Linked DNA regions of Homo sapiens. The protein of the gene in region 1 interacts with the protein of each later gene in a biochemical or structural test. Each region holds a gene or a part of one and is shown on either strand. Other genes may lie near its edges.

What was found. The genes of interacting proteins can lie anywhere in the genome.
Region 2: the proteins of DFFB (region 1) and TOP2A form a complex in vitro, tested with the Homo sapiens proteins (one study listed by BioGRID).

The regions. Positions count from the first base shown.
Region 1 is NC_000001.11:3,853,296-3,860,487, reverse strand, and holds the start of DFFB (DNA fragmentation factor subunit beta), read right to left. Parts: upstream 3,013-7,192; 5' UTR 2,885-3,012; coding exon 2,771-2,884; intron 1,771-2,770; coding exon 1,644-1,770; coding exon of another isoform or gene 1,622-1,643; intron 69-1,621; exon of another isoform or gene 1-68. Other genes in the region: CEP104 (centrosomal protein of 104 kDa), read left to right, coding at 4,521-4,614. UniProt on the Homo sapiens protein: Nuclease that induces DNA fragmentation and chromatin condensation during apoptosis. Degrades naked DNA and induces apoptotic morphology.
Region 2 is NC_000017.11:40,400,876-40,407,899, reverse strand, and holds part of TOP2A (DNA topoisomerase 2-alpha), read left to right. Parts: intron 1-225; coding exon 226-351; intron 352-957; coding exon 958-1,068; intron 1,069-1,210; coding exon 1,211-1,316; intron 1,317-1,406; coding exon 1,407-1,516; intron 1,517-3,016; coding exon 3,017-3,109; intron 3,110-3,408; coding exon 3,409-3,523; intron 3,524-3,626; coding exon 3,627-3,748; intron 3,749-4,845; coding exon 4,846-4,994; intron 4,995-6,818; coding exon 6,819-7,024. UniProt on the Homo sapiens protein: Key decatenating enzyme that alters DNA topology by binding to two double-stranded DNA molecules, generating a double-stranded break in one of the strands, passing the intact strand through the broken strand, and religating the broken strand.

The sequences.
Region 1 (7,192 bases):
GGAGACCAAGGCAGGAGGACAGCTTGAGCCCAGGAGTGTGAGACTATCCTGGGAAACATGGCGAAACCCTATCTCTACAAAAAATACAAAACAATTAGCCAGACGTGGTAATGCATGCCTGTGGTCCCAGATACTTGGGAGGCTGAGGCAACGGGATCACTTGAAACACGGAGGTCGAGGCTACAGTGAGCAAGGTTTGTGCCACTGCACTCCAGCCTGGGCAACAAAGTTTCAAAATATAAATAAAACAAAAATATTTTGGCCAGGCACAGTGGCTCATGCCTGTAATCCCAGCACTTTGGGAAGCCAAAGTAGGAGGACTTCTTGAGCCCAGGAGTTTGAGGCCAGCCTGTGCAACAGAGGGAGACCCCATCTCAATGTTTTCATAAAAGAAAAGAAAAAAAATTTTTTTTAAGTCTAACAAGGAGGAGGACTAGCGGTCTCAGCGAAGAGAGGAGGATAAAGCGCCAGAGAAAGGAAGGACAGAGAGAGAGAGAGACAGAGACAGACAGAGAGAGCCAGAGACAGAGACAGAGGAGAGAGACAGAGACTGCGAGATGCAGGGAGAGACAGAGAGAGAGCAACGTGCTCTGCTGTCTTTCAACTATGCCCTGAAATGGGAAAGAAAGATAACATCCAAAGGTGAGGCATACCCTGAGCATACCCCTGCCCAGCCCCCACCTCCTGCAGGGGCCACCCCAGGGGGCATCACAGTGATACATTTTCCAGCTGCCTCCTCTAAAAGCACAAGGCCCAGTGGAGAAAGGGGGTTTGCAACCTTGGAGCACACACCAGAGGCGTCACCCCTCAATGCTGACAGTGGAGCCCCCAACACTGTAGCCGGGGAGGTGGCCACATGGATGTTACTCTTCGACTTCTCTCTTTTTGCCCCTTAGGCCAAGGAGCCACAGCTCCATCCCTCAGAGCACCCATGTCCTTCCTGGGCTGCCAGAAGCATCTCCTGGAGCCTGACCCCATTTGCACAACACTGGCCGACCCTCCCAGGTAAAGGCACATGATGGCATCTCCTGCCCCAGTGGCCAAAAGCTCTCTTTTACGGGAGTCAAACAAGCGCAGACCTTGGCATTCGGCTGGTTCTGAAAGGCAGGACTTTGTGTCCTGAGGCTTCAATACAGATGCCCCGAAAGAACCACCTCTCAAAGCAATTGCCCCCAAACTTGAGCCCTGAGGACAGCATCTTAGCAAACACCAACCGAGAACAATGTGAGAGCATCCCACGAACCACCACCTCGTCCTTCCAGAAGGGTGCTCAGCCCAGCAGAACAGAACAGCATCTCTTCCTGGCTCCACCTTCCCCATGAAACTGTGCAGGCCCCAACCCCAAAGCCCTCCCTCTGCTCTTGGGAATTGCTAGGACACCTCAAATGAACGCAAATAAAATTAAAAGATTTTTTGAAGAAAAAGACGACCAATTGAACAGCTGGGTTCATGAACGAGAGGACTGAGGACTCTGCCACCTAAGCGACGCTGACCAGTTCTGCCTCCAGAGGGCTTCCTCCTTGAGACCCGAGAGTTCACAGTAAGGGGGACTCTTCCCCACCCTGATGGGCACCTGGAGCTAAGCCCCCAGGACCTCGGAGAGTGCCAGCTTCCCGCCCACCTCCAAAGTCCTTGCCACTCACAGCCCTGCCAGGCCTGGCCCAAGGTGAGCAGCACCAGCTCGGCGTTGTCGGGAACACTGGGGAAGTAATCTTCCGTCAGCTCCGTGCCATCCTCGTACAGGCACAGCCGGGAACCGCGCTCAGGGAGCTGCAGGGACGGGAGAAGCAACAGGAGGAGGAAGGGTCTCAAGACGAGGGCTTTGCATCTGCAGGCCTCACAAACGACCGGAATGAGCTGTGCTTAAAGAAGCAGGCTCAGGCTGCCGCCTGTATGCCACAGTCGCTCCAACGCCCAGGCAAGGATGAGGGAGCGGGAGCAAGGGCGCCTGACTGCGGGCCGTTCTAAAATACGAAGAGTCAGGAAAAACATACATCAGGGGGTGACTGCTGGCTCTGCAGGATTCACCCTTTTTAAATGAGCTCCTGAGGGCGCTTCAAATAGAGCCTGTCTTTGACAGCGCCGCCTCCCTGCTGCCAGGAGCTGAACACCACCATCCCCAGCACACAGCCGCCAGAGCGGTGCTGGCACACGAAGGAGAACGGTTGGTTGCCTCTGTGCACAAGTGTGACCGGCACGTGGCACTGTTAATTTGTTGGAGTCCGGTTCCCTGTTACTCTGCACTGGTCAGTTTTAGGCATTTTATGGCTACTCCCACCCCACCCGCACCGACCCCGGCAATGCACACCTGGTAACCCTAGTACTGGTCTAAAAAGAAAACCAACCTAGAATAAGGTGACGATTGCAATCCCCAGCTGCGAGGGCTGGAAGGGGCCTGCAGAGCCCACCTAGCCAAGCCTTTCATGTTACTCAAGGGGAAGCTGAGGCCGGACAGGCAGAGCAGCCGTGACCCCGCGTGCCAGTACCTGGCACTCTACCCGGGTCTCCTAGCTCTGATGCAGGGCTGTCCTGCCCGAGAGGTGGGAAGAGGGAAGGGGTGATCCAGGTCGTCCCCCAACCCCCCTGCGTTCTGAAGCCACGCTCAGGAACCCCAGGCTGCGGGGGCCCGGGGTCCTAGCGGCTGAGGCGAACGAAAACTACCCGCCCCGGGCGCCGCCTGCACCCTCCGTTTTGGAAGAGGAAAAGCGGCACCTCCTATTCTCCCCACACGCCTCCCCGACGGGCCGTCCCCGCCTAGCCCAGCGGGCACCTGGAAGCGGAGACAGCCCTTGCGCAGCACCTCCTGGCAGCTCCGGCCAGCCACGCCGAACTTCCTCGGGCTGCGCAGGGCCCGCAGCTTCACGCTCTTGGGCTTCTGGAGCATTGCAGATGTCCTCAAGCCCTCTGGGTCCCACAGGCGGTGGCACCTGCTGCCCAGCTGCTCAGATCCGTCCTCGCCCTGGCCGCAGGGGTCTGCACCTGGTGAGCTCTGCAAGCTGGCACAGGCCGGGTGCCGATCCCGGAAACTACATTACCCAGAAGGCCTGGGAAAAGTGAGGCCCGACGCGGTCTTGTGCGCAGGCGTCGCCCCACGGACACCACATTACCTTACTCAGAAGGCTCAGGAAAGCAAAGGCGCGACGCCACCTGGTGTGCCCAGGTGCCGTGGCCCCGGAAACTACACAACCCTGAGGGCCAGAGTAGCGGAGCCCTCCCCTTGTGCGCAGGCGCGGCCTGGGGTGGGGCGGGGTCGCGCACGCGCAGAGGCCCTGGCCCAGGGCTGGGCTTGGTTGTCATGAGAGTGGAGGCTGCGGCCGGGGCTATGGGCAGAGGTGGCCGGGTCTGCTTCTTCCCTGTCACTGCCGCAGCAGCTTGGGGTGCAAGGCGGCCTGGGGCGGCGGAAGGGGCGCCCCCCGAGTTCCGTCTGAGGAAGCGGCGGCTGCCGAGGAAGTCCACGAGAGCCGGGTCCCGCACGCCCCTGGGGTCCGGGTGCTGAGGCGCCGCCTGGCCGCCTCCCCGGGCCGCGGCACCGCTCCGACCCAGCCGCCCTCTCCACCGGGGCCGCGGCAGCGCCAGTCGGGGCCCTTCCCTCTAAGCAGGTACCTTCCGGGCCGCTGCGGCGCCGGCCCAGGGCCGGAGTGGGGAGCGGGGCGCGGGGCGCGGGGCGCGGGCGCCGCGGGGGCGCGGTCCCCACCTGGGAGCTGGGTACGAAGCCTGGGTGCGCGGTGCAAGCGCGGACGGTGTGGAGTTAGATGCCGGCCTTGCTGTCGCCGAAGAGCCGGCGCGGCCCCGTCGTGCCGTATGCCGGGGAGCTCAGCACGGGTGCTGGGACCGCCTGCCCCGGCCGGGACGGCCCATTTAGCGTGGAATATTGTTTTCAGATCCGGCTTTTCCTCTTCTGGATGCGTAGCACATAGGGGGCCAGTTTCAGATGTGTTCTGCTGAGCAAAAGTTTGAGGAAAATTGCTCTGTCCCTATAGAGATTAAAGTCTGATGGTTGGTTGTTTTTTGTTTTGGAGTTTGTTTTGTTTTGTTTGCACTTAAGTTCAGATTTCTCTGAAGCCCTTTCAGTCGCTAAGATGACTTGATCAGAAACCCATAAGCCTTTGAGACGGTCTCGCTCTGTCGCCCAGGCTGGAGTGCAATGGCACGATCTCAGCTCACTGCAGCCTCCGCCTCCCGGGTTCAAGCGATTCTCCTGCCTCAGCCTCCCGAGTAGCCCGACTAATTTTTTTATTTTTAGTAGAGACGGGGTTTCACCATGTTGGCCAGGCTGGTCTCGAACTCCTGACCTCAAGTAATACGCCCTCCTCGGCCTCCCGAAGTGCTGGGATTACAGGCATGAGCCACCGCGCGCAGTCACACTTAAAAGTCTTCTTAAAAAGAAAATCAGAGACAAGTTTTGTTTCCTAGTCTTGTAACAAAATGGAAGTTGCTACACTGAGTTTCCGTTTAATTTATAGTTAATTGCCTTTTACCATGCCAGCACTAGGAAAAGTGTAGTGAGGGATGAGACCGCCATGGAGTCATCGCTGCCTGGGGAGAGATGTACTCTGGCATTTGTCGGGATGTCGATGGCTGCCCCTGGGACAACAGGGATCCCTCATGCCTCTGGTGAGGAAGACCAGCCAATAACTGGATGTTCAACAGAGCTTTGCTTCTTCCCAAATTGTTAATGGTGATTTTTATAGAGCCTAAAAGTGGCATCCTTCAGTGACATTCCAAGTATCTTATGTAACACTTGAAGGTTTACACAGAGGGGACCCTAGGGTACAACTGGAAGGTCTTTGGGAGGGGGTAGACTAAAAAAGGAATCCTTTTCAAATACCAGACTGAGGTAATAGCATTGCCTCCACAGTCCCTGTGCATTTCTCTTAGCTGGTTCTTAAATGCCAGTACTTTGTTTTAGATTTGTTGGGGGCAGTATAGCATACTGGAAACACCCTTCTGTTTGACTGAAAAGGTCCTATATTTATGTCTTCGAGCCGTAACAGAGAGTGTTGGTTAGGTTCAGAGACTAGCCAGGCTCGGCGGCTCACGCCTGTAATCCCAACACTTTGGGACACTAAGGTGGGAGGAGTTCAAGACCAGCCTAGACAACACAGTGAAACCCCATCCCTACAAAAAAAAAAAAAAAAAGTAGCTGTGCATGGTGGCATGTGCCTGTAGTCCTAGCTGCTCAGGAGGCTGAGACAAGAGGATCATTTGAGCCCGAGAGTTCATGGTTACAGTGAGCTATGATCACGCCACTGCAGCAGTACAGCCTGGGCAACAGAGCGAGAACCTGTATTAAAAAAAAAAAAAAAAAAAAAATCGGGGCTGGGCTTATTGGCCACGCCTGTAATCCCAACACTTTGGGAGGCTGAGGCGGGTGGATCACCTAAGGTCAGGAGTTCGAGACCAGCCTGGCCAACATGGTGAAACCCCATCTCTACTAAAAATACAAAAATTAGCTGGGTGTGGTGGTGCGCACCTGTAATACTAGCTACTTGGGAGGCTGAGGCGGGAGAATCACTTGAACCCAGGAGGCAGAGGTCGCAGTGAGCCGCGATCACGCCACTGCACTCCAGCCTGGGTGACAGAGTGAGACCCTCTCTCAAAAAAAAAAAAAAAAAAATTTGGAGACTGGAACCCAACAGCCTGGGCACAAGAGGTATTTTCAAGGTGGAATAGGGAGTGACAAGCCCTGCCCTGAAAGATGATGAAAGGGGCCTGGCATGGTGGCTTATGCCTGTAATCCCAGCACTTTGGGAGGCCAAGGCGGGCAGATTGGCCAGGAGTTCGAGACCAGCCTGGCCAACATGGCAAAACCCCGTCTCTACTAAAATACCAAAAAAAAAAAAAAAAAAAAATTAGCCAGGCATGGTGGTGCATGCCTGTAATCCCAGCTACTTGAGAGGCTGAACCACAAGAATCACATGAACCAGGGAGACAGAGGTTACAATGAGCCCAGATCACGCCACTGCACTCCAGCCTGGGTGATAGATTGAGACTCTTGTCTCAAAAAAGGAAAAAAAGCTGATGAAAGGATTGGAGGGCTTCAGAGCTGAAGGGTATTAACTTTGAGCTTTGATTGTTTGGCTGGACTTCAGAATTCAGGACAAGAAGTGAGGGTCAGGGGAGAGTTGGCGCATTGATCCCTAGATGGGGAGCCCACCAAGAGCTCTGGAGTTAGGACATGGATGGAGATGACTGGAGCTGGGCCTGAGGCACGTTCACACAATAGGAACTTAGGACTTGTCTGAGGGAGGCGCTTCAGGTGGGGACACCAGGTGGTTGCTGTCTAGAAAAGACAGTGGGATCAGAAGGAAGGGCAGGCCTGATAAGACCTGGCACACTGTTGGATGGGGAGTGGGTGAAGAGAGATGCTGTGGCCAAGGGAAAAGTACCTCTAGGCTCAGAGCCCATGCGACCCAGAAGTGCCAGGTCACGAAGGAGTGGGAGCCATGGGCTGTGCGTTTCTGGCATAGGTTGCCCAGAGTGCAGGTGGGGCCGTGCAGCTAACAGTGGGTTAAATCACACTCATCCTTTCAAAATTCTTTTTTTGTTTGGTTTTTTAGAAACGGGGTCTCACTCTCTTACCCAGGCTGGTCTCGAACTCCTGGGCTCAAGTGATCCTTCCACCTCGGTCTCCCAAAGTGCTGAGATTATAGGCAGGAACCACCACACCCAGCCTCATCCTGTTCTGGGGGGCTTTTTAAAAATTATTTTCTGAGTTGGTTTAGTTTTGTTTTTGTTTAATATACAGTAACATCTTGCAGTGAACTTTGTGCAAAAAATAACTAGAATCTCGATGGTTTATCATTCTATTTTAGTGCTTTTGTTCATACATTCCAAGAAACATTAGCAATAATGCCAGCCAATAATTAATATATTGAAGTGGTCCTCTTCGAATTCTCAATGAAAGTAAAAGAAAGATCTAGATCATGCATCAAGCATGTCAAAATACGTACAGTTTTATGTGGGGGTATGTTTATATGTTACCTCCTATTGGGAATTTCAATTAATAGTATATCTTATCCCAGAGAACTTTCTGATGGAGTCTTCTTTATCCTGGTTTAGTGAGGAGCCTTTTTTTTTTTCCCCCGATGATTTAGACCTAACCCAAATTGGCTTACTTAGGAGGAATCTGACTGGCTTAGTAACTGAAAAGTAACCCAGAGTCCCTGAGCAAATTGGGCTCAATGTCCTG
Region 2 (7,024 bases), on another chromosome or scaffold:
ATTCCCTCATTAGGCATTTTAAAATATATTTTAGACAATTTGTGCTTATTTTGAGAAATTAGGTACATTGTAGCCTATTTTAACAGACCTTTCTGATGTAGTAAATTATAAGCTAATAGCTCAAAATACTGGAGCTCAAGAAAATCCAAGCAACATATACTGTTAAATTTCTTTGTTCTTTTCAAATTTATAAACGATGCTTTTTTTGGTATATGTCCATTTCAGATCATGGAAAATGCTGAGATTAACAATATCATCAAGATTGTGGGTCTTCAGTACAAGAAAAACTATGAAGATGAAGATTCATTGAAGACGCTTCGTTATGGGAAGATAATGATTATGACAGATCAGGTCAGATTTGTTATTAAATTTTTAGATTGTTCAACTAAATTAAGCATGTCTTAATTTAATTTCATTGTTTTTTGCCATGAAAATAAATTAGTTAAATAGGAGCTTTATTCATCATCTCTAATCAACATCTAATCAGATATGCTTATATCATATGTATGTTGCAAATACAGGTTAAGTGAGTCTGGATTTGAACAGACCTTTTTTGATTCCCATAGAAAATTTGACAAATTGCCAGTAGGTCAGTCATAATATTTTTTTATTTCTAAACAATTCTTTGTTTGTTTGAGATGGAGTTTCGCCCTTGTCGCCCAGGCTGGAGTGCAATGGTGCAATCTTGGCTCACTGCAACCTCCGCCTCATGGGTTCAAGCGATTCTCCTGCCTCAGCCTCCCGAGTAGCTGGGATTGCAGGCGGATGCCACCACACCCAACTAATTTTTGTATTTTTAGTGGAGACAGGGTTTCACCATGTTGGCCAGGCTGGTCTCGAACGCCTGACCTCAGGCGATCCGCCTGCCTCGGCCTCCCAAAGTTCTGGGATTACAGATGTTAGCTACCACGCCCAGCCTAACAGTTCTTTTGAACTTTGGCTTTCAAATCTTTCTAGGACCAAGATGGTTCCCACATCAAAGGCTTGCTGATTAATTTTATCCATCACAACTGGCCCTCTCTTCTGCGACATCGTTTTCTGGAGGAATTTATCACTCCCATTGTAAAGGTACGCTAATTTCTAAGTACCATCATGGATATTTTAAGACCCTACTCCTCAAACCTGGATATACATATAAGCCCCGTCACATGTAGTGGTATACAGGGGACCCCACAGTGTACAAAGCCACAGTCATTGTTTTTTATCACAGGTATCTAAAAACAAGCAAGAAATGGCATTTTACAGCCTTCCTGAATTTGAAGAGTGGAAGAGTTCTACTCCAAATCATAAAAAATGGAAAGTCAAATATTACAAAGGTTTGTAATGAAACCCATATAGAACTTCTCATTTTATTATACACCCTGTACAAGACTATATGAAGGAACTTGGTATTTTTGGTTTTATAGGTTTGGGCACCAGCACATCAAAGGAAGCTAAAGAATACTTTGCAGATATGAAAAGACATCGTATCCAGTTCAAATATTCTGGTCCTGAAGATGATGCTGCTATCAGCCTGGTAGGTTTGAGTTGTATTTTATATACATTCTAATTTTAGAAATCACTACTTTAGCCAGTTGAAACATTTACATTTTTGTATAAGACTCCGTATCAAAAAAAAAAGAATGTTTTATAGAATAGAATGTTTCCAGTAAGCATATCCCAGAGAAGGAATCAGATATTTTAGAAAATTTTGATTTTTGGCTGGGCTTGGTGGCTCATGCCTATAATTCTAGGACTTTGGGAGGCCAAGGCAGGTGGATCACCTGAGATCAAGAGTTGGAGACCAACCTGTCCAACATGGTGAAACCCCCTCTCTACTAAAAATACGAAAATTGGCCGAGCGTAGTGGCTCACGCCTGTAATCCCAGCACTTTGGGAGGCAGAGGCGAGCAGATCACAAGGTCAGGAGATCAAGACCATCCTGGCTAACAAGGTGAAACCCCATCTCTGCTAAAAATACAAAAAATTAGCCGGCCGTGGTGGCACGCAGCTATAGTCCCAGCTACTTGGGAAGCTGAGGCAGGAGAATCGCTTGAACCCGAGAGGCAGAGGTTGCAGTGAGCCGAGATCAGGCCACTGCTCTCCAGCCTGGGCAACAGAGTGAGACTCCATCTCAAAAAAAAAGGAAAAAGGCCAGGCGTGGTGGCTCACGCCTGTAATGCCAGTACTTTGGAAGGCTAAGTCGGGCAGATCACAACGTCATGAGATGGAGACCATCCTGGCTAACACGGTGAAACCCCGTCTCTACTAAAAATAAAAAAAAATAAAAAATAAAAAATTAGCCGGGCTTGGTGACACGCGCCTGTAATCCCAGCTACTCCGGAGGCTGAGGCAGGAGAATGGCGTGAACCCAGGAGGCGGAGCTTGCAGTGAGCTGAGATGGTGCCACTGCACTCCAGCCTGGGCGACAGAGCGAGACTCTGTCTCAAAAAAAAAAAAAAACAAAAAAGGTCGGGCGCAGTGGCTCACACCAGTAATCATAGCACTTTGGGAGGCCGAGGCGGGTGGATCACCTGAGCTCGGGAGTTCAAGACCAGCCTGACCAACATGGTGAAACCCCATCTCTACTAAAAATACAAAATATTAGCTGGGTGTGGTGGCACGTGCCTGTAATCCCAGCTACACGGGAGGCTGAGGCAGGAGAATCACTTGAACTTGGGAAGTGGAGGTTGTGGGAGCCGAAATCGTGCCATCACATTCCACAAGAGTGAAACTCCATTTCAAAAAAAAAAAAATACAAAAATTAGCTGGGCGTGGTGGCGGGCGCCTTTAATCCCAGGGGCTCAGGAGGCTGAGGCAGGAGAATCGCTTGAACCTAGGACGCAGAGGTTGCAGTGAGCCAAGATGACACCATTGCACTCCAGGCTGGGCAAGAGAACAGTAACTCCCGTCTCAAAAAAAAAAAAAAAGGAAAACAGTATTTTTGTTTTTCTGTTGTTCGTTCTTTGTAGAAGGATATTTTGGAACCTATTAGCCTATTAGTACCAGTGACATCTTTTCATCCTTTAATTTATAGGCCTTTAGCAAAAAACAGATAGATGATCGAAAGGAATGGTTAACTAATTTCATGGAGGATAGAAGACAACGAAAGTTACTTGGGCTTCCTGAGGTAAAAGTTTTAAATATATGCCACAAAATGGATTGTTAGACTGACCTTTTGGTATTGATACTATAGCAAATTAAACTTACTGAATAGTTATTTTAGTAAAAAATTTGATATGATAGAGTTGTGCAGCAGTTAAATTTGCTTTATCTTTAAAACATATAAAATATTTCTGTATTATTCAATATTTTTTAAAGACTTAAGAATTACAGAAATAATTCTTAGTTCTGAAAGGTTTCTGTTTGATTTTTGTGTTGAGCATTGTTTAGACCGGTAGACTCATGTAATACTATTTGGTCCTTCAGGATTACTTGTATGGACAAACTACCACATATCTGACATATAATGACTTCATCAACAAGGAACTTATCTTGTTCTCAAATTCTGATAACGAGAGATCTATCCCTTCTATGGTGGATGGTGAGTTCCAATTTGTTAGTCTGTTTTCATTGTAAGATGGAAATCAAATTCCAAAATTGGTTAAATTGAGGATACTTACGTTTGCTCTTATTTCATTTTAAAGGTTTGAAACCAGGTCAGAGAAAGGTTTTGTTTACTTGCTTCAAACGGAATGACAAGCGAGAAGTAAAGGTTGCCCAATTAGCTGGATCAGTGGCTGAAATGTCTTCTTATCATCATGGTGAGGTAAACACACAATCCATGTTTCCAGAAAGCATTATATCAGAAATCCCTGCAGAGTCATTCTCAAAACAGATTTGGTGAAAGTATAAGCTCATATATTCATAGTAAAGAACAAGTTGGTAAAACCTGTGAAAGAATAAAACTGCTTGCCCTTTGATTTCTGAAAGTAATATTCCTGCAGGGATATTCATAAGTCTGCAAAGGTCTACATTAAAAAATGCTTAGTATGTTTATTATAACTTTGTGATGTCAAAATTTAGACCTCCACTGATTTGAAAATTGTTATAATAAATTGTGACACATGTATGCATGGAATCAGTGCTGTAACTTCAGTAAAACTGTGTGCACTGACACTGAGGAATATCCAGGGTCTATTCTCAGGTGAGGAAAAAAAGAGACAGAACAATAACTAAAAATGTCTACAAGGATATGTTCCAAATTGTTCACTTTAGTTACCCCTGAGAACTGGAAAGGGCAACTTTCACTTTTTATATGTGTCTGAATTGTTTGACTTTACACCAATGTTTTGTGATTACTTTTTGCATTAATTATGTAAAACAGTTTTAAAGAACTAGATTGCCTACAGGTTTCTAGAATTTTAAATATAATGGTTGTCTTGTTGCTTTCAATCAAAATATAGTAGGGATACAATAAATTTTCACCCAACGAACATTTGTTGAATGCCTACCATGTACCAGGTATACAAAAATAAATAAAAATATGTTCCTTATCCCCAAGATATAATAACAATTTAGCCAGAGGGCCAATACACACACAGCTATAGAATAAAGTGATACATGCTAGAATAGAAATGAACACAGCATTGTAACACAAAGGAGGAAATATTTCATTTTGCTGAGGATAAGGAGAAGAACTATGCCTTCAAAGTTGAGTGGGATTTAATAGAAATTGTTGGACGGCAGCCCTAAACTTGGAGCCAGAAGTTGTAGGTTCAAGTACTATTTCTGCCATCTATTAATCTGAGGAAAGTCACTAAACAACTAGACCTCACAAAATGTTACAGGATTATAGTGAGGTTAAGTCATAATGTATTTGTATTAGTAAAAGCCTCAGCTTAATGAATCTTTTTTTCCCCACAGATGTCACTAATGATGACCATTATCAATTTGGCTCAGAATTTTGTGGGTAGCAATAATCTAAACCTCTTGCAGCCCATTGGTCAGTTTGGTACCAGGCTACATGGTGGCAAGGATTCTGCTAGTCCACGATACATCTTTACAATGCTCAGGTAGGTATGCTTTCACTTTCTAGTGACTTGCCATTTCCAGTTTTGAAACAATGTGAGATTTAGTTCACCAAAAATACAAAAACTCAGTTAATCAGAAGATACTGGCATCTAGTGGCAGAGGCCAGGGGTGAGGCTTATACAGGAAAGCCCCCCCATAACAATTATCCAGTGCAACATGTCAATTATGCTAAGGTTGAGAAATCCTGATGTAGAGCTTGGGACTGAGTAAAGGAGACTTTGATTCTTCCTAAATATCACAATTGAAATTTTACTCCTTTACAAGCCTATGGAAAGTATATTATGAATGGTCAATTTTCAGCTGTCATCCCAGTCACCCTTTCAGTGGCATTCAAACAGTTACTAATTGCTCCATCCTTCTTGAAACTCTTTATTTGGCCTCTATGACTGTAGACTCTTCTGGTTCTCTTCTACCTTATTAGCTTTCTCTGCTGGGTCCTTCTCACCTTCCCAACCTCTAAATACTGGCCCATTCCAGGGCTCCTTCATCAGATCTCTTTCCAATGCCTACACTCAATTCCCAAATGATCTCCCATTCATCCGTTCTATACCTTTAAATCTCCAGTCTTGGTCTCTCCCCTGAACTCCCAACTTTTATGTCTGACTGCCCTCTTAACATTTCCCACTTGGATATCTAGTTAAGTATCTCAAACATAAGTCTAAAACCAAATCCTTAGTTTTCCTGTCTCAGTAAATGGAATGCCATGCCATCCTTCTAATTGCTCAGGCTAAAAACCTTGTCACCCTTGACTCCTTTGCTTGATACTTAACATCCAGTTCCTCAGCCAATCCTATAGGATCTGCATTGGAAAAATACTAAGCCACCCCCATCTCATCTAAACTATTGTAACATATCATCTTTTCTTAAAGCAGCCAATTATTTTTTAAAAAATAAGTCACTCTGATTCAGAACCTTCAACTGCTCAGAGTAAAATCTAAAGACCTATTTTAGCTAACCAGACATTATGTGATCCGTGTCCCCACCTTCCATGTCTTTTGATTCCTTCTCATACCATCTCCTCTCCAGCCACACTGTCCTTGGCCTATACTCAAATATACCGAGCACATTTCCTCTTCAGGGCCTTTTACTTACTGGTTCCTTTGCCTGCAACACTCTTTCTCTAGATATCCACATGGTTCAGTCCCTCAGTTTGTTTTTTGTTGTTTTTTTTTCTTTTGAGATGGAGTTTTGCTCTTTTTGCCCAGGCTGGAGTGCAGTGGCGCAATTTCGGCTCATTGCAACCTCTGCCTCCTGGGTTCAAGTGATTCTCCTGCCTCAGCCTCCCGTGTTGCTGGGATTACAGGTACACGCCACCATGCTCAGCTAATTTTATATTTTTAGTAGAGATGAGGTTTCACCATGTTGGCCAGGTTGGTCTTGAACTCCTGACCTCAGGTGATCTGCCTCCCTCAGCCTCCCAAAGTGCTGGGATTACAGGCGCGAGTTACTGCACCTGGCGCCCTCAGTGTCTTTTCTCTGCTCAAATGTTTTCCTATCAGAAACGGCTTAACTTTCCTTAGCACCTCTTCAGTCACTTTCCCACTTTTTCTTCTCTTGTTTATCCCACCACCTAACAAAATATGTGTTAATTGCAAACTTCTACTGGACTGTGAGCTCCTTGAGGATTGAGACTTTATGTCCATGTGCGTGACACATAGCAAGTGCTCAATAAATATTGTTAAATGTATATTAGTCAGCAAGTAAAACCAAGATAATTTTCATGTATAATACATGTCCTTTCCATAAAAGTTAAGTGTGAAATTCAGTATTTTTGTAAAATAACATTCTTTGTTTCTTTTCTTTAGCTCTTTGGCTCGATTGTTATTTCCACCAAAAGATGATCACACGTTGAAGTTTTTATATGATGACAACCAGCGTGTTGAGCCTGAATGGTACATTCCTATTATTCCCATGGTGCTGATAAATGGTGCTGAAGGAATCGGTACTGGGTGGTCCTGCAAAATCCCCAACTTTGATGTGCGTGAAATTGTAAATAACATCAGGCGTTTGA